2 linked regions of the Homo sapiens genome follow. The protein of the gene in region 2 binds, or shares a complex with, the protein of the main gene of each other region. Each region holds a gene or a part of one and is shown on either strand. Other genes may lie near its edges. The genes, in order: GAB1 and PTPN11.

Region 1 (12,667 bases), on a different chromosome or scaffold from region 2:
CATTTGTCCCTTCCACCCAAGAAAATGTCTGAGAAGAGGAACGCTAAACTGCAACAGGGCTTCTGCTGAAGATCTACAGCTCCTCCCTCCCCCATTTTACAGGTAAGGAAACTGAGGATCAGAATGGTCAAATGCTCCTGTGGGTGGGTAATGGCAAAACCAAGTAGAATCCGGGTCCTGACACTCAGTCTGAGTTTCCTTCCACTATAGCAAAACATCCCCACTAAAAGCATCAGTGGGTGCATCAAATTACATTTTAATACAAAATTCTTCAAAAGTAAAGTAGTAGCCCATCTACTACAATGCTCCTTCTGGCTGTCAGTCTCTGTAAGAAAATTAGGACTGCTGAGTACCTAACACATGTTTTGAATCTATCACCTCTGGCTGGGCACGGTGGCTCACACCTGTAATCCCAGCACTTTGGGAGGCTGAGGCGGGCGGATCACCTGAGGTCAGGAGTTCGAGACCAGCCTGGCCAACATGGCAAAACCCCATCTCTACTAAAAATACAAAAAAAAAATTTGCCGGGCGTGGTGGCAGGAGCCTGTAATCCCAGCTACTTGGGAGGTTGAGGCAGGAGAATCAGTTAAATCCGGGAGATGGAGGTTGCAGTGAGCCATGAGCCAAGATCATGCCATTGTACTCCAGCCTGGACAAGAGCGAAACTCCATCTCAAAAAAAAAAAAAAAAAAAAAAAAAAAGAATCTATCACCTCTGAAACTTTCTCAGTCTGCAAATTGTCAATAGCTTATCTACATATTTTTATGTTAAGTCTAAAATATGGGATTTTACTTACTCTCAAAAAACGCTGTGTGTTTTACTCCTTACATTTTTAAGCAGGTTATGGCAAAATACACTGAAATAACCAGTCACTTGTCAAACAGATTATCCAACTATAACTCTTGCCACTTTTTGTTCCAAGATGATCTCTTAAAAAAATAATTTTAAAGAGCCAGCAGAATTCTCAAACTACCCCCTCCAAACTAATGCACCTTCCTAACAGTAATTCTGAATCTCAAAAGGTAGCAATCAGATTTGGAGATTCAGCAAGTTGCACGTGGAGAGTTCTACACTTATCATTCAGCCCAGGCACAACAAATGAACTATCATTAACCATCATAAAGGCTTAATGTAATTGCAAGTTGATGATCTCTGTTAACAGAAAAAACATTCTTGCTACACTTGAAAAGGTAAAAACATTGGGAGTCTGAATTATGTTTACTAACATGAGGATGGCAAGAAAAAATTTCCTTCAATAGAATAATTATGCTTATTCAGTCACTGTAAGCAGAAACATCAGAATCCATTGATTGCTAGTGGTAATTGTCAAAAAAGGATAGGAAGAGCTTCTAGACATGACAGTCCTCTTTGTTGTAGTGACACTATTGAGCAGGGGTTTCATGCTTAGCACAGGTCCTGGGTTGTCCTTGAACCAAGGAGATGCTGACACTTGGCCTGCCCACGCCCCTCTCCTCCATGTCAGATGTCAGGTGCCCACCCAGTAGGAGAGGCTATTTCTGTTTCTAGGCCCATTTCCAGAACCAGGGGTGTGTTTTTGAAGTCCAGACAAGAGTTGTCCTGTTAATTGACAGCTGCAGAGCAGACAGAGAGCCCACGCTGGGTACAGATTACCTACCTAAGAACTGGCTGGGGCCTTGCTACCAGGCTGGCTGTCAGCTAACAGGCCACCTTGCTCTGGCCTCAGAAGCAGGTTCTCCTGCTGAGATTGTGCACCTGCCCAATGCTGACAGCTGGGCTATGGAGGAGCCCAAACTTAGTGTTTGGGCTTCAGGCAAGGAAGCTCCTCCTCCAGAGCGATGGTGGTAGCCAGCTGTCTTGAAACAATACTTTATTTACAGACTTGCATCTTATTTCAGCTAAAATTTCAGGTTCTGATGAAAATTTCACCATCATTTCTTTAAATAATTCTTTAAAAATCTGAGCACCATTGTTGAGTGCATACTACCAAGACTTTACTTGTTTTCTGTAATCCTAGTGACAGTAATCTGTTTATGATTCCATCAGGTCCTTAACAAAGTAAAAAAGCAGCTGTTTAATATATAACACAGCATGAAAACAGCAACACCACAGTAGCAACCCTGAAAAGAAGCATTAAAATTTTCACCTACATTTTAAGTAGATTTTAAAAACTTCCAGGAGAATGAAACACATACAAGAAAGAACCTTTTGCGAATATAGAAAAAATTAAAAAGAGAAGGAAAAGCTGGGGAATCTGCTGACTACTCTTGACTTTCATTTTTTTGTGTGTCATTCTTTAGAAAATTCAAGAAAAGCTTACACATCAGACTAACACACTAGCGTGTACAAAAAACAATCCTGCTTGAGTTGACTATGAAACAGTAAACATAAAACGGAGCTGTAAATGGAATACATTGGGGGCCATATATGAGATGGCTTTAAAGCTAAAACTAAAACAATTTAAGGCCAGGCGTGGTGGCTCATGCCTGTAATCCCAGGACTTTGGGAGGCTGAGGTGGGTGGATCACCTGAGGTCAGGAGTTTGAGACCAGCCTGGCGAAATCCCATCTCTACTGAAAATACAAAAATTAGCTGGGTGTGGAGGGGGATGCCTATAATCCCAGCTACTGGGGAGGCTGAGGCAGAAGAACTGCTTGTATCTGGGAGGCAGAGGTTGCAGTGAGCCGAGATAGTGCCACTGCACTCCAGTCTGGGTGACAGAGCAAGACTCCATCTCAAAAAAAAATTAATTAAAAAAAACTAAAACAATTTTTTTGTCACTTAAAAGCCCTTATGGATCATCTTAATCAGTGTTCGGACTACCCTATAAATGCTGTAAACAGTGAGACAACTGTCAAAGTCCCATGGGCCAAATATTTCCAAACAGAATCATGATGCTCAAACTCCCTGAAGTCTCATTTAATAATTATAGTATCAAGCATCCAAGATATCTTTTCATAGCAAATCCATTCATTACAAATCATTATCCACAAACATTTTGCCTACTGGGTGGCCAACAATGTTTCCTTTATCCAGAAAAATAAACATTCTACATAAAAAAAACAAGCATAGGAAATGCACGTATACATGTCTATATCTTTGATGGTCAAAGCTACTTTAGCAAAAACCATCTAAACTGGACAGCAAAGCCAAAAGATCAATAATCTGGGAATGTCAAAATCTTCTGGGCCACCAACCTGACAGGTAAAATACAAGCCTTATTTAACCTGACAGTTAAATAAGCCTTATTTAACTCATTACACTCCATGCTGGTTTCCTCTATTCTGACAGCCGCCCTGTCTACTGTCTTCCAGGACTATCTCCATCTACTTTATTCGTGGGTAAAGAAAACACCAGTGCTACACCAGGCAAAGAAAATCCTAGTTTCTCCCAAGCTATTAGGCACATTCATCCTCCTGTGGAAAACACAATGTAGGCAGCCCACTGTCTCTCTCAAATGTTCCCATAGTTTCAGTCTACATTGAACTTGTTCCTCAGAACAGCCAAAAAATACCCATACCACTCAACTTAGACACACAGTCATATACCACTTTGCACTGTTGGCTTTTTCACATATACTTGTCTCGTGGTCCCAAAGACTCAAAGAGCTACTTAAAGGCAAAGACTAGGTCTTACATTTCTTTAGCACTGTGCACCTGATCCATAGTCCACCTCATTCTTGTATTCTCAACTAATATTCAGAGTCAGGAAAAGTTATAATCTGAAAGGACCTTTATTTTGTTGTTGCTATTTTTGAGACGGAGTCTCACCCTGTCATCCAGGCTGCAGTGCAATGGCACAAACTCTGCTCACTGCAACCTCCACCTCCCAGGTTCAAGCATTTCTCCTGCCTCAGCCTCCCCAGCAGCTGGGATTACAGGCGTACACCACCACGCCCGGCTATTTTTTGTATTTTTAGTAGAGACAGAGTTTCGCCATGTTGGCCAGGCTGGTCTCCTGACCTCAGGTGATCCACTGGCCTCGGCCTCCCAAAGTGCTGGGATTACAGGTGTGAGCCTGAAGGACCTTTAGAGATAACCTAGTCTAAGCTCCACATTTGAAATGAACTAGGTGAGAGTCGTTAACCTTTTACAGTCCAATCAATCAGGCAGATCTGGGTTCAAATGCAGGACTGTTTTCTGTAAAATAGAGATGACACCTACCTCAGAAAACAGTTGTAATGATCAAATTATACTTTCCTTTTTGTTTTTCTTGTTAAGACATAATCTTTTTGGCTGATTTCTTTCCTGGTTAATAGTTCAATTGAATTCTAAGCCCAAGAGGCAGGGCTTTTTTCCTTTTTCCTACTGTATTTTGTGACCTTATGGTTGGTGTCTAATACAGTGCCTGGCGTCTTTTGAGTGAGCCATGAACTAACCATGTGAAAGAATGAATTAAACCTATATTATCACTTTCACGTTCAGCAAATATGTTATTCTTTAATTCCTCCAAGAATCTGTTTTTCCTAAATTGGGCCTTCTCAAAACAAATATATTTATCTCCCTACCCCTTTCTCCCTTCCTTCTCTGTCACATACACACACACACACACACCCCTACCTTTCTCTTTAGAACAGCTGGAAAAAAAAACACTGCCTCGTTCATATTTTTGGAATAAAGTTAGCATTTTTACTAGGATATTCAGGAAAACTGATAGATGGACAGGATTTGGAGGCATTACACATCTCTGGAGAGCTTTCTTATGATTTGTGGCATCGAGTCTTTCAATAAAATTACTTGTCTATAATAAATTCTGGCAGAAAGTAAATCAGAAATTCACTGGTGAGTTGTCAGTGAAGTTAAATACTTCACTCTGTGTACTTCACTCTGTTCTATACAAGCAAACAGTGACTAACAGGATTAACCTGAGCTCTAATACTGGGTGTAGATATTCCTCAACGACAAACGGGTTCCCTTCGTACAGGCATTAAATTTATATTATATTTAAGGGGGCATAAATTTTGCTTTTGCAAACACATTTTACTAGAAAAATATTTGATCCAGATGTCAGCACAAAAGTGTCATTTCTTTCCTTTGCAAGGGAGCAGCAACAAAACAACCAATGGGGAGGAAGAATAAGATCCCAGACCTCTGAAGAGGACACAGGTTTCCACTAAAGCAAGGTTGATACTTTCAAGGAATATTTTTCCTAACAGCTAAAACGGTTTAACACATAGCATCTTGTATCAATTACACAAACACCATTAAAGCCACTCTGGTTCCCTGGGAAAGGACCGCAACTGAAATCCCTTCTGGCTTCAGCTGTCCCCTCCTGCCGAGTTTGACAGCACATCCAAGGCGCCCAAACACCAGCCACTAGGCTCCCCCCCAGCGCCCTCCTCTCGCAGCAAACCGCCAAGGCTCCCGGGCCAAACTCCAAAGTCCCTCAATTCAAAACCGCGAAAATGTGAACCCTGCTAAGCAAACGGCAGGGCGCGTAATAACTTTTCTTTCTTTCCCTTTTGCGCGCGTTCGATATGCTTGTCTCTACTACCAACTCCTCAGCTCCACAGCCCGCTTCCCGCAACCCATCTCGAGGGGCGGAGGAGAGGGAGCGCCCACCAAAGAAAGGGCTAGTGAGCCCTAAAACCTCGGCAGTTTTCCCGGTGCGGGAGCTTTAGCACACATCAGCCCAATAATCAGATGCAGGAATAAAGCAGGAAGAAGGCTCCTCTCTCCATCGCACCCCATCCTTCCTAAGGAAGAAAAAAAGCATGCAGCAGGAGTTTAGCTGGACGTCTAGGTCCTTTTATGGGGCGAACAGGCCCGCAAAGCAGGCTGTCTGGAACCTGGAGGAAGAAAGTTGTCCGGCCAAGTGGATGCCTGGGCGTGAGGGAGTGCAAGGCACCCTGTCCCGAGCCCGCCAGGGGTAGGGGCCAAGGGGAAAGAGACCGGCATTCGTTTAAGAACCAGCCCCGCGCGCGGCCAGCTGCAGCCGCCGGCGAGCCGACTGGGGAGGGGTGTGGACGCCGAGGCCCGCGGAGTGGTGCCCGCAGCTCTACTTACATAACGCTTCAACTTTTTCTCCGGGGGGGACTTGCGGAGCCATCCGGAGCAGACCACTTCACCACCGCTCATGGTGCGCGCGTCTCGGGCTCCGGGCCGGGCAGCTGAGGGGCGGCGGGCGCGCTCCCGACACAGCCGACGCCTGCCGAGCGCGCAGTGGCGAGAACCTAGCTCTCCTGGTCGCGCACCCCGGACGGACTGGGCGGACAGACTCCACGGTGCGCGGGTTCCACGAGTTCGAGTCTCTCCTCTGCAGGCCCACGAACCTGAACAGAACGCGAGCCGGGGCCGCGGGCGCGCCGGCCTCCTTTCAGTGCGCCCGCCTCGCCTCCAGACGTGCCGTCTCGCCAGCTGCCTCAGCAGCGCTCGGACTCAGCGGGACTCTGCCCCGACTCGGTGCCGGAGCTTCTGTCCTTTGCGCTCCGCCCCCTAGGGACAAGACCTCCCCAGAGCGCTTTCCGAAACAGACACAGCGCTGCTCACACACACACACACACACACACACACACACAATGCCCCGCGCGGTGCCCGCTCGCCCGCCCACCCGCCCTCGGTTTCGATGCGCCCGGAGCGATCCTCCTTCCCTCTCCTCGGGGGAGGGTGGGTCACTTCGCGGCGCTCGGTGAACGCCGAGGAAAGGGGAAGCCGCGAGCCGCCTACGGGCAGCGGGCGCGGGGCTGGTCCCGGGTCACAGAGGGAGCCGCAGGGTTGGCAGCGAAGCGCGGGGCGTTTCTGAGCGGCGGGCGCAGGGAGGTCGCAGGTCAAGCCGGAGGGTGGGTCCGCTCTCGCGGCCGCCGAAGAGGGCGGGGAGCAGCAGAGGAACGAGGCGCTTGGCGGCTTGGCTCCTGGGAGGGATCCCGCTGTCCCGTCCCCTCGCGCTCCTCCCCCGCCGCCTCCCCCACCCCGGGGCTCGCGGCAGGTCCTGAGCGGCTCGGCCCCAGATCCCGATCCCTCCCTCCCTCTCCCGGCCGCCGGGCTCCTTCTTCCTCCCTCTCCTCCTCCCCTTCCCACGTTCAGGCCCGGCTCCGGTTTCTGCCCAGACTTTCTCTGAAACTCCGCCGGAGTGCTTCCAGCCAAAACAACAAGGGCCGGGGGAGGAGACGGACGAAGGGAGGGAGCAAGGGAGGGAGGGAGCGCGAGTCCGAGAGGCACCCTGGGATCTGTAGTTCGGGAAGCAGGAGCAGGGTCCTCCGCCGTCCGGCGGCCCCCAATCGGCTCCTCGCCCGGGAAGACCGCAGAGGCCTCGGCTAGGGCAGAGGCACCGGGGCTTGGGCGCGGGGAAGACTGAGGGACATTCGAATGTTCAGTCCGGGGCTTGCCATCTTGACTCAGCCCGGTGCCAGCTCGGAGCTTGTGCTGTGCTCGAGATCAGGAGTTTCGAGGGTTTTCTTTACTTGAGAGCCTGAAAGGCAAAACCGCGGGGAGACCACCATCCTGCCGGTCCCCGCCGCGCGAGATTAAAGGACAGACCAAGAGGGCGCGGGAGCTACCAGCTTGGAGGGGAGGACAGATGGGGACCCAGGGCTGGCCAGGGCTGGTCTCTGGAGCTGTTCTGCCAGAGTGATGGGGGCGCTTGGCGAGGCCAAGGATTTGGTTGGGTCCTATCTCTGAGACATTTTGAAGTCTCACACCCCTTCCATTTGTTGCCTATTCCACTTAACTTTGTATTTGTTTGAAATCTACTGTTCGGATGCTGGACTAGAAGAGGGACACTTGGCCGGGCGCGGTGGCTCACGCCTGTAATCCCAGCACTTTGGGAGGCCGAGGCGGGCGGATCAACTGAGGTCGGGAGTTCAAGACCAGCCTGACCAACATGGAGAAACCCAATCTCTACTAAAAATACAAAAATTAGCCGGGCGTAGTGGCGCGCGCCTATAATCCCAGCTACTCGGGAGGCTGAGACAGGAAAATAGCTTGAACCCGGGAGGCGGAGATTGCGGTGAGCCGAGATCGCGACACTGCGCTCCAGCCTGGGCAACAAGAGCAAAACTCCGTCAAAAAAAAAAAAAAAAAAAAAGAGAGAGAGAGAGAAAGAAGGAAGGAAGGAAATTTACTGGGTACCCTAGTTCTATTTGCCTACTTCCTTGTGTGTTTCACAATTATTATACTGGTCCTGAGTTTAACATGATTCTGTAATAAACATCTTCTCCAATTTATTTGTGAAAAAGCCCCAAAGCCAATTTCAGCAGATAATATAATCAGATAAAAGTGCTAAAAATATGACGACATAAATGAGCATTTCTGGAAAGACATAACTTCAGTCATTTTCTTATTAACACAACATTCATATTCTGAAGCTCCTCTGAGTTTGAAAATGTTAGATGATTGTAATAAGAAATTAGGTGCTGGAGTGGTGACAAGACAAAGATCCCTGCATATATGGAGGTAGTGGCATAGGGTAGTAAGCAAATAAAGAGTCAACAAAACTACAGATTGAGACTCAGTCTCAAAAAAGAAAAATCTGAAAAAGCCTGGTTCCCACTGGGGTTTAGAGACCGTCATCTTTTGGCAGGCACTTAACAGTATCACAAGGGCGGAACTTCTTGCAGATCTGGATGCACTTTTCAGGTCATCAACTGAGTAGTCGTGACCTTGGGTAAATTACACAATGTCTCTGAGTCTCAGTTTCCCGATATGTGAAATGGGAATTGCAACACCGATTTTGCAGAAGTTTAATGAGAAATAGAAATGGTAGTGTTGGCCAGGTGCGGTGGCTCACGCCTGTAATCCTAGCACTTTGGGAGGCCTAGGTGGGTGGATTGCCTGAGCTCAGGAGTTTGAGACCAGACTGGGCAACTCAGTGAAAACCCGTCTCTACTAAAATACAAAAAATTAGCCGTGGCGGCGTGCGCCTGTAGTCCCAGCTACTCGGGAGGCTGAGGCAGGAGAATCGCTTGACCCGGGAGGCGGAGGTTGCAGCGAGCCGAGATCGCGCTACTGCACTTCAGCTTGGGCGACAAAGCGAGATTGTGTCTCTAAAAAAAAAAAAAGAAAAGAAAAGAAAAGAAAAGAAAAGAAAAGAAAAGAAAAGAAAAGAAATGGTAGTGTTGGTCGGTTAGTCGGGCGCGATGGCTCGCGCTTGTATTCCCAGCACTGTGGGAGGTCTAGGTGAGCAGGTCACTTGAGGCCAGGAGTTTGAGACCACCCTGGCCAACGTGGTGAAACCCAGTCTCTACTAAAAACACAAAAATTAGCCGGGTGTGGTGGCACGCGCCTGTAGTCCCAGCTACTCGGGAGGCTGAGGCAGGAGAATCGCTTGAACCCAGGAGGTGGAGGTTGCAGTGAGCCGAGATCGTGCCACTGCACTTCAACTTGGGAGACAGAGCGAGACTGTCTCTGAAAAATAAATAAATAAATAAAAAGGAAAATGGTAGTGTTGGTTGGGCGTGATGGCTTGCACTTGTAATCCCAGCACTTTGGGAGGTCTAGATGAGCAGGTCACCTGAGGCCAGGAGGTCGCGACCATCCTGGCCAACGTGGTGAAAACCCAGTCTCTTCTAAAAACACAAAAATTAGCTGGGTGTGGTGGCGCGTGCCTGTAGTCCCAGCTACTCAGGAGGCTGAGGCACAAGAATCACTTGGACCCGGGACAGGGAGGTTTCAGAGAGCTGACATAGGGCCACTGCACTCCAGCCTGGGTGACTGAGTGAGAGTCTGTCTCGAAAAAAAGGAAAAAAGAAATGGTAGTTTTAAATATCAGGCACATATTAGATATTGTAGGATTTTTGCTGTTTGTTGCTGTATTTCTTAATGTTCTTTCTGAAACATAAACAAGCGTAATTTTTATGGCAGCTAATAAACCAAAGCACTTCTTTTTAAGTATGTGAATATAAATCATGCCACAAATCTTCCAAATGAAAATAAACCATCAAATTTGTTTTCCTCTTCTCCCATAGGCAGCATGTAGCTACATTGAGCCAAAAGTATAATTAGCATTAGTAAGACTAGTATTGTTGAGTAGTTAACTATTGGCTTTAGCAAATTTACCATTTCCTACACTCTTGTTATAAAGTTCTTTGTAAATGGAAAATTGTAATATATCTTGTATTATTTAGCTTTGGGAATTTCCACAAATTTTTTTCTTTATTTCAAATAAGGCATTCAGTTATCTCATTCCTATGTAAAAAATCTTTAAGTGTTTTTCCTATCTTCTACTGAGTTGTTTTAGGCTTGTATTTCTAGAAATTAAATCAGGGTTGAAGAGAAATTGAAGATAGATATGTCTCCATGTATATATTTTAGAAAGGAAATTTGCCTTATTTTTATATGTCATGTTTAGATTATTTGTTAAATCATATTTTATATCTTTATGCCTTAAAAGGCACGCTGGAAAAAGTTATTATATGTTAGTATCTTAAATTTTATTCATACAACGAATATTTATGGGATGCCTATTATATGCCAGTCCCTGAGGACCCAGGATACAGTAGGGGAAAGCCAGACCTGTTCCCACACTCCTCTTTCCTAGAGAAAAGCTTTTGCAGATAATTAACCCCATCATTTTGGCAATACAGTTGATAAATGCTATGGAAGAAAATATAGTGTTGTTTGGGCATATAACAGAGGATGTACCCCCCAGGAGTAGGGCGGTAGGTTGGGAAGGACTTCCCTGAGGAAAAGACTTTTTTTTTTTTTTGAGACGCAGTCTCACTCTATCTCTCAGCCTGGAGTGCAGTGGCACAATCTTGGCTCACTGCAACTTCCGCCTCCTGGGTTCAAGCTATTCTCCTGTCTCAGCCTCCCAAGTAGCTAGGATTACAGGCGTGCACCACCACGCCCGGCTAATTTTTGTATTTTTAGTAGAGGCGGGGTTTCACTGTATTGGTCAGGCTGGTCTTGAACTTCTGACCTCAGGTGATCCACCTGCCTTGGCCTCCCAAAGTGCTGGGATTACAGGTGAGAGCCACAGCGCCCGCCAGGAAATTCAGGCTTTAAATTGAGATCCTCAGGATAAGAAGAAGTTGGCCTGGTGGACATAGTAAGGGAGAGTATTCCAGACAAAAGAGAAGGTGCAGGTGTACAGGTTTTCAGGCTGGAAGGAGCATTTAATGAACTGAATGAAGGCAGCAGTGGGGTGAATGATGGAGACATTGGCACTGGCTGAGGTACAGAGGCAGGCAAGGGACAGATTGTGCAGGTCCTTGGAGATCTTCAGATTTAGACATTTTCTTGAAGCAAATGACCATTTCATCTCCTATGACATTCAAATCTATCCAAATCAGGCCGGGCGAGGTGGCTCACACCTGTAATCCCAGCACTTTGGGAGGCCGAGGCTGGCAGATCACCTGAGGTCAGGAGTTCGAGACCAGCCGGACCAACATGCAGAAACCCGGTCTCTACTAAAAATACAAAATTAGCCGGGCATGGTAGCGCATGTCTGTAATCCCAGCTACTCCAGAGGCTGAGGCTGGAGAATCACTCGAACTCGGAAGGCAGAGGTTGCGGTGAGGCGATATCGCACGCCATTGCACTCCAACCTGGGCAACAAGACGAAACTGTCTCAAAAAAAAAATAAAAAAAAGAAAAGAAAAAAGAAAAATCTATCCAAATCACCTCAAGCAATCATCTTTGTGCATTTTGTTATTCCCTTCCAGCATCCCACTTTAGCTATACATCTTTCAACTTGATTTTTCAATATCTCCCTATGTAATTATTCCTTCTTCTCAACAGCTTTTCTAGTCTATTAAGACTTGTGCTTTCCCGTGATCTATCAGACATTTCCTTTCTTCACTCCCTTCTCCTTATCCAGCTTAAATTCTGTGGTCCACATTTTCAGTAAACATTCCTATCTCACAAAACCCCAACTCTGGACAAACCTGACTGTCCTTTCTTTCTTTTTTTTTTTTTTTTCCTTTTTTGAGATGGGATATCACTCTGTCACCTAGGCTGGAGTGTGGTGGTGCTATCTCAGCTCGCTGCAACCTCTGCCTCCTGGGTTCAAGTGATTCTCCCACCTCAGCCCACCCAGTAGCTGGGACTACAGCTACACACCACCATGCCCAGCTAATTTTTGTATTTTTTTGACAGAGACAGGGTTTTGCCATGTTGGCCAGGCTGGTCTCAAACTCCTGGCCTCGAGTGATTCACTTGCCTTGGCCTCCCAAAGTGCTGGGATTACGGGCCTAAGCCACCATGCCCAGCTTGACTGTACTTTCTTCTGCACACAACCAGCCAAGTGCTGTTGGAGCAAGTCGCAGAACAGGATGAGTGACATCACTGTAAATTCATGTTCAGTGACCTCAGATAGATACAAAATTATTCTGCAGGGGCAAATCTTCATGTCCTGGGACCAGAAGTTTATATAGTTTGGGGAGTCTTTTTAACGAAAATAATGCAATTACAAATACGAAATTTGGATGAATATGTATTTAGAATGAGGAAATAAATCACCAACAAATTCCCGAAGCCCTGGAGATGCAGATGTCTTTCTTCTAAGATTTATAGGTAATTTACCAGAATCCTTACATATTCTTCCTGAGTACAGCTTGACACCCCCTCTCCACTAGGACACTCCACTTCTCCTAGAAGCTCCCCACTCTCACAAGAGGCCTGTGCAATGACAGGCCCTGAGCTGAAGCTTCATTAGCTTTATGGATGTCTCTGCCACCCAGTGACCTAGACCATTCAAGCTGCTGTAACAAAATACCTTAGACTGGGTAATAGATAAACAATAGCCATTTATT
Region 2 (11,894 bases):
TCCTACAGAGGTTCATGTTGGCATTGTTAAATTTATCAGATTTTTCCATTATGATTTCTGGGTTTCTTGCCATGCTTAGAAACTGTCTTAATTCACAGCAATGTTGTGTGGTGGAAATTAATTAATACATGCAAAATGTTTAGCACAGAACGCCCTTGGAGTTTCACATTTGGAACTAGAAATTTAGATGTTATCCAGAAGAAAACGTTTAGAAAAAAGTCACAGATCTTAACAGGACCCTGTACGGCATGGCCCCTGGTTGACTCTGGTTCTCTGATCACGTCTCCGATTTCCTCCAGTTGGTACACGCAGCTTTTACATGTGCTTTTCCCTCTGGTGGTCCCACAGTCAGATCCCCCATCCTACCTTCTCAAAAAAAACCCTGCTTCTCAGGGGTGACACTCAACATGGCAATATAGCATCTAATCACACATTTCTACAGTCACCAGGTTGAAGGCTAGACTGGCAGTTCCATGAGGGTGAAGGACACATCTATTTCTTTTATTGTTTTTTAGAGATAGGGTCTCGCTCTGTCCCCCAGGCTGGAGTGCAGTGGTGTGATCATGGCTCACTGCAGCTCCAACTCCTGGGCTCAAGCAATCCTCCCACCTCAGCATCCCGAGTAGGAACATGTCTATTTCTTCACCACCGTATCTGCAGCCCCTAGCAAATGGTTAATACAGAGCAGTTCCTTACTAAACATTTGTGGCCAGAGGGAAGGAAGAGCAACCTTGGGGTAAGCCCCATCACTGCTCTCTCCTACATCCACACAGTTTCACATCTGTGACCCGGGTGGTGTCAACAGGAGGCTGTCAAGGATGACTCCAACTCCACGTACTCAAGAGGAAGAGGCAGAAGGCAGCTGACAAAGCCCTCTTCAAACTGGCCCCACCAGCAATTTATGTGGCAAAAAGATGGTCATTGTTTTTAATATACAGTCTCTTCTCACCCAATCGGTGGTACTGACAAGGATATTTTTCCCTATCTGTATGCTACTGTAGTCATTTTAATAAGAATTTGCAAAGTGAATGTCTAGGACACCTATGCATATGAGCCAAAAACTTGCTCCAAAGCCTCCCCGTGCATTTGGAAACACCAAATGTTGATATCTGAAACTAACTTGCAGTCTGGGTAACAAAGTAAGACCGCATCTCCACCAAAAAAAAAAAGAAAAAAAATTTTAATTAGCTGGGTGATGGCACATGCCTATAGTCATAGCTACTCTAAAGGCTGAAGCGAGGTCAAAGGTTTGAGACCAGCCTGGGCAACATAGTGAGACCTCATCTCTAGAAAAAAAAAAAAAAGTTTTGTAATTACCCAGGCATGGTGGCCCACACCTGTGGTCCCATCTACTCTAGAGGCTGAGACGGGAGGATTGCTTGAACCCAGGCATCTGAGGCTGCAGTGAGCCATGGTTGTGCCATTACACTCCAGCCTGGGTGACAGACCAAGACTCTGTCTCAAGATAAAAACAAAACAACAACAACAACAACAAACCTATATGAATCACAAAATTAAAAAGATGATTTATCCATACTTACATTGTTACAAACACTATTTTTCCACAATTATGAACTGGCTCTGATAATAAGAAAAAAGCAATATATGGCCAGGCGCTGTGGCTCACACCTGTAATCTCAGCACTTTGGGAGGCTGAGGCAGGCAGATCACCTGAGGCTGGGAGTTCAAGACCAGCCCCATCTCTACTAAAAATGCAAAAAATAGCCGAGTGTGGTGGCACACACCTGTAATCCCAGCTACTTGAGAGGCTGAGGCACAAGAATCACTTGAACTCAGGAGGCAGAGGTTGCAGTGAGCCGAGATGGTGCCACTGCACTCCAGCCTGGGCAACAGAGCAAGACTCTGTCTCAAAAAAGAAAAAAGAAAAATGTGATATGTTGGCTATTATACATTACAGCTGGTTAAAATTACAGCTATACTTACTGAATGTTTGCCACATGCCTGTGTGCAAAGCAGACTTGAGAAATCAAACTTTTCACCATTACATTCTGCTATTTAGTTCTAAAAATTTCTTTTTAATACCCTCATTCTTGCTGTCATCTCATATTTCTAAAAATTTCTTTTTTTGTTGTTGTTTTTTTTTTTGAGACGGAGTCCTGCTCTGTCACCCAGGCTGGAGTGCAGTGGCACAATCTCAGCTCACTGCAACCTCCACTCCCGGGTTCAAGCGATTCTCCTGCTTCAGCCTCCCACGTAGCTGGAATTACAGGTGTGTACCACCACACCCAGTTAATTTTTCTGTATTTTTAGTAGAGACAGGGTTTCACCATGTTGGCCAGGCTGGTCTCGAACTTCTGACCTCAAGTGATCTGTCCGCCTCAGCCTCCCAAAGTGCGGGGATTACAGGCGTGAGCCACTGCGCCTGGCCCACCCTGTCTCTTAAAAAAAAAAAAAAAAAAAAAAAAAGTAGTTTCAACTGCCAAAGGTGAAACTAGGTAAACACCACCTACATCCATCCAGATCAGCAACAGAAGATAAGGTAGGTGGTCTTCTCTTTTACCCTTTTATTACATAAACTGTATTATTTCATTTACAACTTACAATTATGCTATCCTGTTATTAAGAACAAACAGATGAGAATAGTATTTTCAGGGAAACTTAGTAACCAGTATTTAGCACAGAGGCTGGAGACAGTAAGGACTTAATAAACATTAGTTTTCACTATTATTAACATTATTATTATTGGTGGAGGTTATGCAGGATAGATACTTCTCATGCATAATTATGATAGTTTCACATAGGCAATTGTGACATGTATGTCATTTAAGCTAACACTGCTTCTTCATACACTTCTTCATGGCTCTGGAGCTGTCTCTACATTATTTCAAACAATAGTTAAGAGGCCGGACGCGGTGGCTCACGCCTGTAATCCCAGCACTTTGGGAGGCCGAGGCAGGCGGATCAGCTGAGGTTGGGAGTTCGAGACCAGCCTGACCAATGTGGAGAAACCCCGTCTCTACTAAAAATACAAAATTAGCCTGGCGTGGTGGCACATGTCTATAATCCCAGCTACTCGGGAGGCTGAGGCAGGAGAATAGCTTGAACCCGGGAGGTGGAGGTTGCAGTGAGCTGAGATCACGCCATTACACTCCAGCCTGGGCAACAAGAGCTAAACTCCGTCTCAAAAATAAATAAATAAATAAGTAATATATAGTTAGAAATTGAAATAGCTATTCCATGACCATCTACTTGAGCTTTCGTAGATTTTAAACTTTCCTTCCATAGCTTTTTTTTTTCCAAAAGTATTCATAATTACCAAAAATGCTTCCCAGTTACAGGTTTAATACGTGTATTCAATCACTGACAATTCTGTAATTTGCAACTTGCTTATCACTAGCAAGGAGCAGTTAGAGTTCATTCGACCCTGAGAACTTAGTAAGAGAAGATAAAGAACAGTGGAATTAATAAAAATCTTAATGTATAGGGCCAGCCTCAAAGGTTATAAGCGCTTGTATATTAGTAAGTGAGGCAAAAAAAAAAAAAAAAAAAAAGACAACACACAGCTTGAACTCCCCATCTCACACCTAGCATAATTTGACACAATAGGGCTTAGTTTAAAAACTGAACCAACAAATGAAACCTGCAATGTAAGTACATCCATATAACCTGGAAGGAGGGGAAGTGGCAAAACGGTATGGCCTCATTTGAGTTTATCAACAAGTTTATTACAATTAATACAGAATGATTACAGTTAATTACAATTAACACAGAGGGTCCAGATAAGATGAGAAGAGACAAATAAATTTCCAGTCCTCAACATGTATATAGTAGGCACTTGATCAATGGCTGCTGAGTGAATGAATTTTGATAGGAGTAAAGGATAAAAAGACACTGATGGGCTAGGCACAGTGGCTTATGCCCATAATGCCAGCACTTTGGGAAACTGAGGCAAGAGAATCACTTGAAGCCAGAAGTGCAAGTCCAGCCTGGACAGCATAGCAAGACCCCGTCTGTATAAAAAATGAAAAACTTAACTGGGCATAGTTGTACGCACCTGTGGTCCCAGTTACTTGGGAGGCTGAGGCAAGAGGATCACTTGAGCCCAGGAGTTTGGGCTTCAATGAGCTATGATTGCATCACTGCAATCCAGTGTGGGTGACAGAGCAAGACCTTGTCTCAAAAAAAATAAATAAATAAAAATAAAAATAAAAAAACACTGAGGGGAGGGGGTAGAGAGTTACAAGGAGAGGGAAGTAAGCATCCTTCTCCTCATCTTGCTCATTCTAACACCTGCAAAACCTGCCAGCCCCTGACAATCCCTTCTAACCAGCCATCATCTGGCATTATCTATATCTATATCTATATAGATATAGATATATAGATATATAGATTTTTTTTTTTTGAGACAGAGTCTCGCTCTGTCGCCCAGGCTGGAGGGCAGTGGCACAGTCTCGGCTCACTGCAACCTCCACCTCCCGGGTTCACGCCATTCTCCTGCCTCAGCCTCCCGAGTAGCTGGGACTACAGGCACCCACCACCAGGCCTGGCTAATTGTTTGTATTTTTAGTAGAGACAGGGTTTCACCATGTTAGCTAGGATGGTCTCGATCTCCTGACCTCCTGATCCACCCGCCTCGGCCTCCCAAAGTGCTGGGATTACAGGTGTGAGCCACCACGCCCAGCCTATATCTATATTTTTTTTTGAGACAAGGTCTCACTCTGTCACCCAGGCTGGAGTTCAAAGACACGATCTCGGCTCACTGCAACCTCCACCTTCCAGGTTCAAGCAATTCTCCTGTCTCAACCTCCCAAGTAGCTGTGACTACAGGCATGCACCACCACACCTGGCTAATTTTTCTATTTTCTGTAGAGACAGGGTTTCACCCACGTTACCCAGGCTGGTCTCAAACTCCTCAGCTCAGGTGACCTGCCAGCCTCGGCCCCTCAAAGTACTGGTATTATAGGTGTGAGCCACCACGCCCGGCCATTATCTATATTTATTAAGGATCGCTGGCCAGGTGCAGTGGCTCACACCTGTAATCTCAGCACTCTAGGAGGCCAAGGAGGGAGGATAGGTTGAGCCCCAGAGTTCAAGACCAGCCTGAGCAACATAGTGAGACCTCGTATCTACAAAAATAAAATAAATAAAATAAAAAAGATCACACAGCCCAGGTAGGTACCACTCATCTCATAGAAAGACTTACACACACATACACACACACACAAACCAGCACTTGGGGAAAAGAGCCTCAAATCAATGTCTAAAATAAGCTCCAGGGCCTATTACACATGACCCCTGTGTTGAGTGGGTTTTAAAAAATGGGAGACATAATTTGTGTCTGTAAGAGTTTACATTTCTCAGCAACAAAAAGAGGAAAAAAAACAAAGTTTTGGCCGGCTGCGGTGGCTCACACCTGTAATCCCATCACTTTGGGAGGCTGAGGCAGGTAGATCACCTGAAGTCAGGAGTTCAAAACCAGCCTGGCCAACATGGTGAAACCCCATCTCTACTAAAAATACAAAAATTACCCAGGTGTGGTGGCGCATGCCTGTAATCCCAGCTACTCAGGAGGCTGAGGCAGGAGAATCGCGTGAATCAAGGGGGCAGAAGTTGCAGTGAGGCAAGATGGTGCCACTGCACTCCAGCCTGCGCTACAAGAGTGAAACTCTGTCTCAAAGAAAAAAAAAAGAGTTTACAAACCTGAACTATCTGTCAGGAAATCACACCCGAAATCTGAATGCAGATTCTGCAAAGGCTTTACTCTTTGAGGCTAGGGACTTATGTCAAGTGAGTTTTAAAAAAAGATGCTGATGAAACAAAAAGAAAATACAATGATGCTGAATATTTTGTTTTATCTATGCATCCCCCTCCTCCAGTGATGTGGGGAAACAGTCAAGCTGGCCAGTAATTTCAGGAACTTCATCTCAAGGCTGCTATACTGAGAAAGGAGGTTTAGGCTGGGGGCAGTGGCCCATGTGTGTAACCCCAGCACTTGGGGAGAATCGCTTGAGCCCAGGAGTTCCGACCTCATCTCTATAAAAAAATCAAAAAATTAGCTGAATGTGGTGGTGCACGCCTGCAGTTCCAGCTACTCAGGAGGCTGAGGAGGGTGTATCCCTTGAGCCCAGGAGGTTGAGGCTACAGTAAGCTATCATTGCAACATTGCCCTCCAGCCTGGGTGACAGAGTGAGACCTTGTCTCAAAAAAAGAGAGGGGTGGAATTTAAACTAGGGATCCAAAGTCTAATTTCAGGGTGGGAGGGGTTTGAGGGATGAGAAATTACTTAATGGGTACAATGTATGTTATTCAGGTGCTGGTTACACTAAAAGCCCAGACTTCAATGCTGGATAATACATTCATGTAATAAAACTGCACTTGTAACCTTTAAATGTATAAAGTCTAATTTCAGTTTCTTGTATACATATAAATTTATATCTTTCTTACCTGCTACTCCAGAAAAATTATTATATTTGTTCTTGGGGAATAAGTTTATAGTTTGTTACTTTCTACAGATTACAAGAATATTCCTCATTTCTAATCTAATTAAATTTTAATATCCTATAGTAAAAGAGTAAGTCATGCTGAAAAAAAAGGCATCAATAGGGACAAGCATTATAAGTAAAAGGCTACAAAAAAAGTTAAATTCTTGAAAAGTGTTCTAATGCATGCTACACTGTATTTCATTTAACTAGCCCCCCCCACTGATGAACATTTCAGTTGTCTCCAATATTTTGCCATCTCAACAATAATGCAATAAATATCCTACTAAATGTCAAAATTTTTTTAAAGTTGTTAGGTGGGCACAGTGGCTCACGTCTGTAATCTCCAGCACTTTGGAGGCCGAGGCGGGTGGATCACCTGAGCTCAGGAGTTTGAGACCAGCCTGGGCAACATTTTGAGACCAGCCTGGGCAACATGGCAAAACCCCATCTCTACATACACACACACACACACACACACACACACACACACACACACACACACACACACAATTAGCCTGACATGGTGGTGTGTGCCTGCAGTCCCAGCACACACACACACACACACACACACACATACACACACACACACACACACACAATTAGCCTGACATGGTGGCGTGTGCCTGCAGTCCCAGCCACTCGGGAGGCTGAGGTGGGAGAATGCTTGAGCCTGGGAGGCAGAGGTTGCAGTGAGCTGAGGTCGTGAGCCTGGGTGACAGAGTAAGACCCCATCTCAAAAAAAAAAGTTGTTAAAGCAGCTTTTTATCCTTTTTTTCCAAGCAGCTTTTTAATGGCAGTGCATAGATATGTCTTTATAAATCACTATTTTCTCATGGAGTTTCATTGGTCAGCATCTCTGCTTTGATGACAAGGCAATAAACAAAAACTACCTCCAAAAAAGACTTTCCACAAACTACTTTTACCCAAGTTCAAAGCCTCTCTCATCACTTGTCTCATCTCCCTGAATCTACTCCTGCCTCCTACAATCCTTCCTTCACAGCAGCCAGAGAAATATTTTTAAATAGATCAGCTCATGCCACTCCCCCGATCACATCCTTCTATGATTTTGCATTGCTCTAAAAATACAATCTACACTCCTCTCCATGGTCCACATGACACTAAAGACATTAAGAATCCCTATGTGGTCTGCTCCCACCTACCTCCCACCTTCCCAGCCTCACAGCTCCCACACTTGCTCTCTCCTAGCCTTCAATCACTCCGAGATCTTCTCCCACTTCAGCACTTTTGCATGTGCTGTTTCCTAAAACCTGGAATACTCAATGCCTAGCACGGTACCTGGCACAGAGTTATCCCACCATAAATAATTCTTCAATGAATGGATAGATGTTTCATTAGAGTAGGCCAGTGGGATGATAAAAACTTGAACCATTATCTTTAAAATAGACATTGTAAAGGCCAGGTACAGTGGTTCACATCTGTAATCCTAGTACTTTGGAAGGCCGAGGCAGGCAGACAGCTTGAGCCCAGGAATTTGAGACCAGCCTGGGCAACAGAGCAAGACCCTAACTCTACAAAAAAATAGAAAAATTGGACAAGTTTGATGCCACGTGCCTGTAGTCAGTCCCAGCTACTCAGGAGGCTGAGATGGGAGGATCACTTGAGCCCAGGAGGTCGAGGCTGCAGTGAGCCAAGATTATGCCACTGCAGTCTCCAGCCTGGGCAACAGGGTAAGACCCTGTCTCAAAAAAAAAAAAAAAAAAAAAAGACATTGTATGTGTGTATATACATGTATGTGTAGACAGATATACATATTACAGAAACACATACAATGTGTATTTGTGTTTATATGAGTATACAAATATACATATATACACATACATTCTAAACAGTATATTCTATACCAATACATTTCAAATTTCAGGCTTGTGTGGTAGCTCATGCCTATAATCCCAGCACTTTGGAAGGCCAAGGTGGGCAGATCACTTGAGGCCAGGAGTTCAAGACCGGCCTGGCCAACATGGTGAAACCCCATCCCTACTAAAAATATAAAAATTAGCCAGACATGGTGGCACGCACCTGTAATCCCAGCTACTCAGGAGACTGAGGCACAAGAATTGTTTGAACCCAAGAGGTGGAGGTTGCAGTGAGCCAATATTGTATCACTGCACTCCAGCCTGGGTGACTGAGTAAGACTCTATTTCAAAAAAAAAAAATTTCAAATTTCATTTTGGTACTAGCTTTATCAAATTCATTTGATGCTGGCATAAAAGTCTGTCTCCCTCTCTAAATTCAGTGCTCCTCGCGAACATGGATAGTATTTTTCCTATTTCAGTGTTGTCAAAGAGCGTCACATATACACATTTGCTCAAGGCACAAAGTCCTCCAAAATTCATAGTAATGAACTGGGCTGCATTTTAGGGCATCTGAATCCATTTCAGGGTCTCCAATCCTTGGTTGGGGTCCACAACTCCCAGAGACCTTGCCAACATCACTTTTTGCCTCTTTCTTCCTTAAAAACATTGGCGTTGGATGGCAAGTACTGTCTGTGTTTCCCAGAGGGAAGGGGAATAAGCTGAGTTTCTCTATTGTTCTGTGGCTGCCTAACAAAGTACACCACGGCCTGCTAGGACAATTACAAACATGAGTTGGCTCTGCTTTTCCAGCATCATGTGCCACTCATAACAGTCTCCACATTGACCATGGACACGAGGGGTAAGTCATCTTAGCAGTGGCCTCTGCACTTGAGCAACTCTAACCAAAAACTTGGCCTTACATCAGGACCTAACGTTAATAAAGACATCCCAGTTTCCACTGCAAAGACACAGAACTGTTATTTTTCAGCAAGGCAAGTTTATTTACTCCCGCAGGAGATAAACAAACGTGGCCACCAGGGAGAGCCCAGGACAAAATGTACTTGACCTGCAAGAGATAAACCAAAAGCCTCCAGTCTCAGAACAAGCTCAATTTTCTGCCCCTCTCAGCTCATCGTCGCGTATGGATTTCAGAGCAACAAAAACAGATGTAAAGGAGGTACCACATGCTGAAGGAAGAGTTGGAAAATACAGGCAGCTTTGTTGGTTTCACAAAGGCAGAAAAGGGCAGAGAAGCAACCTCAAAATCTAAATCCAGTACTATCACTGCTACATGATCAAGGGAGGAGTCACTTAATTGCTGAATGCCTTAGTTTTCCTACCTATGATGCTGAGAGATATCAGTACATTGAATATACTTACATTTTAATTACTGGATGCATATAAAAGCCGAACCCAAGAGGAGTTATTTTGATAATTAAGCAAAACAAAATTCAGACTACTAATTGTCATTCAGGTGTCAGCTCACACGATCACCTTCTCTAAACCACCTATCAAAACTAACTGCATTCTCCCATCCTCACATTTCTGTGGGATTTTTTCCCTCCTAGAATTTATTACTACCTGAAATTGCCCTATTTAGTCATGTGTTTGTCTGCTCTCTCTCAGCCATGAAAATAGCAATATTTTCCTATCTTACTGCTTTATCCTGCCTGGCTCATTAACTTCCTGTTGAATGAATTAATACTAGGTTAAAGTAATTTGAAGGCGGGACGCAATAGCTCATGCCTGTAATCCCAGCACTTTGGGAGGCCGAGGCAGGAAGATCGCTTGAGCCCGGGAGTTTGAGACCAGCCTGGCCAACATGGCAAAACCCTGTCTCTATAAAAAAATACAAAAATTAGCCGGGTGTGGTGGTGCACACCTGTAGCCCCAGTAACCGGAAAGCTGAGGAGGGGGGATGGATTGAGCCTAGGAAAACAAGGCTGCAGTGATTGCACCACTGCACTCCAGCCTGGGCAACAAAGTGAGACCCTATCTCAAAAAAACACAATAATAACAATAATAATAAAATTCTAGGGCTGGGCAGGGTGTCTCATGCCTATAATCCCAACACTTCAGGAGGCCAAGGTGAGAGGATCACTTGAACCCAGGAGTTTGAGACTGCCCTGGGCAACACAGTGAGACCCCATCTCTATTCAAACAATTTTAAAATTTTTAAAAATAAAATTCTAGGAAATGCAAACTAATACATAGTGACAGAAAGCAGAATAGTGGCTGCCTAAGAACAAAGGAAGGATTATAAAGAACATAAGGCAAAATTACCAGGGGTGATAGATGTGTTCATTATCTTGACTATGGTGGTGGTTTCCCAAGTGTATATGTATGTCAAAACTGATCAAATTGTACATTTAAATATATGCAATTAATTGCATGTCATTTATACCTCATTAAGGCTGGTTAACAAATAAAACAGGCTTATAATCCAAAAAATAATGAATCATTCAAAATTATGTGTATTATGTTCATAACCCGGCTTTTTGGGTGGTGCATAATACCAGGGCTGGAGGGGAGAAGGAATTACTCCATTTCAAACTGTCATCTTTACCACTTGCTACTTTGACTATGCCCACACTTCTATGCTTCTAAATGAACAAACTGGACAATGTAGGGTCTATTACTACCCAGACCTTTTCCCAACCCCCAGCCCCGTCTGATGTCTCCTAAAGCAGCAGATCCTTACTTGTCTGGAAGAGCAGACACCAGGAACAAAAGGCTCAATGACTATTTGACAGATTAAAGAATAGACAACTGTTTATTTAAAAGCTCCCTAAAGAATTAGAACATTTGAGGCTATACACTGTTCTGTTGAAATGCAGTTATATATTACCCAGATCTGTAAGCACTTGCCAACCGACCTGTCCAAGTCACTCACTTCCTACGAGTTCTCAGTTTTCTTTTTCTCCCCTTTTTAAATTCCAGATCCATGTATGAATAACATGCCAGGTGTGTTTGGAGGAGACATTCCTAATATTTTGAAAAATCTCATTCAGGCTGGGTACGGTGGCTCACGCCTGTAATTCCAGCACTTTGGGAGGCCAAGGCGGGCGGATCACGAGGTCAGGAGTTTGAGACCAGCCTGGCCAACATAGTGAAACCCTGTCTCTACTAAAAATACAAAAATTAGCCGGGCATAGTGGTGCGCCTGTAGTCCTAGTTACTTGGGAGGCTGAGGCAGGAGAATCGCTTGAACCTAGGAGGCGGAGATTGTGGTGAGCCGAGATTGCGCCACTGCACTCCAGCCTGGGCAACAGAGTGAGCCTCCGTCTCCAAAAAAAAAAAGAAAAAAAGAAAAGAAAATCTCATTCAAATAGCCTCAATAGCTTGAATCGTTTTTTAAATGTCTGAGACAGTGACCATAATTGAACAATCATGGAAAAGAATAGACAATGGGTCTTAAGTGTGAGTGGTATATAGAGTGACTATACAAAATAGCAGGATCACTATCTGAAAACAACAGGTCACACTACTGTTTGACAACAAAATTAAGGCTTACAAATGGTTAGCAATAGTTACAAAATAATAGAAGCAACATAGTGATTAAAAGTAGGGATTCTGTCTCCACCACCTACTAGCTGTGAGGTTAGGCAATTTACTTAACCTCTGAAACTCGGTTTAC

The links.
Region 1: the proteins of PTPN11 (region 2) and GAB1 are in contact, whole or in part, in a crystal structure (PDB 4QSY), measured with the Homo sapiens proteins. Residues at the interface, in NP_002825.3 of Homo sapiens: Gly13, Val14, Glu17, Arg32, Pro33, Ser34, Lys35, Ser36, Thr42, Arg47, Thr52, His53, Ile54, Lys55, Leu65, Gly67, Gly68, Tyr81, Gln87, Leu88, Lys89, Glu90, Lys91, Ile96; in NP_002030.2 of Homo sapiens: Lys623, Val625, Glu626, Tyr627, Leu628, Asp629, Leu630, Asp631, Leu632, Asp633.

Annotation. Positions count from the first base shown.
Region 1 is NC_000004.12:143,330,578-143,343,244, reverse strand, and holds the start of GAB1 (GRB2-associated-binding protein 1), read right to left. Parts: upstream 6,370-12,667; 5' UTR 6,057-6,369; coding exon 5,985-6,056; intron 1-5,984. UniProt on the Homo sapiens protein: Adapter protein that plays a role in intracellular signaling cascades triggered by activated receptor-type kinases. Plays a role in FGFR1 signaling. Probably involved in signaling by the epidermal growth factor receptor (EGFR) and the insulin receptor (INSR).
Region 2 is NC_000012.12:112,420,015-112,431,908, reverse strand, and holds part of PTPN11 (tyrosine-protein phosphatase non-receptor type 11), read right to left. Parts: intron 1-11,894. UniProt on the Homo sapiens protein: Acts downstream of various receptor and cytoplasmic protein tyrosine kinases to participate in the signal transduction from the cell surface to the nucleus. Positively regulates MAPK signal transduction pathway. Dephosphorylates GAB1, ARHGAP35 and EGFR.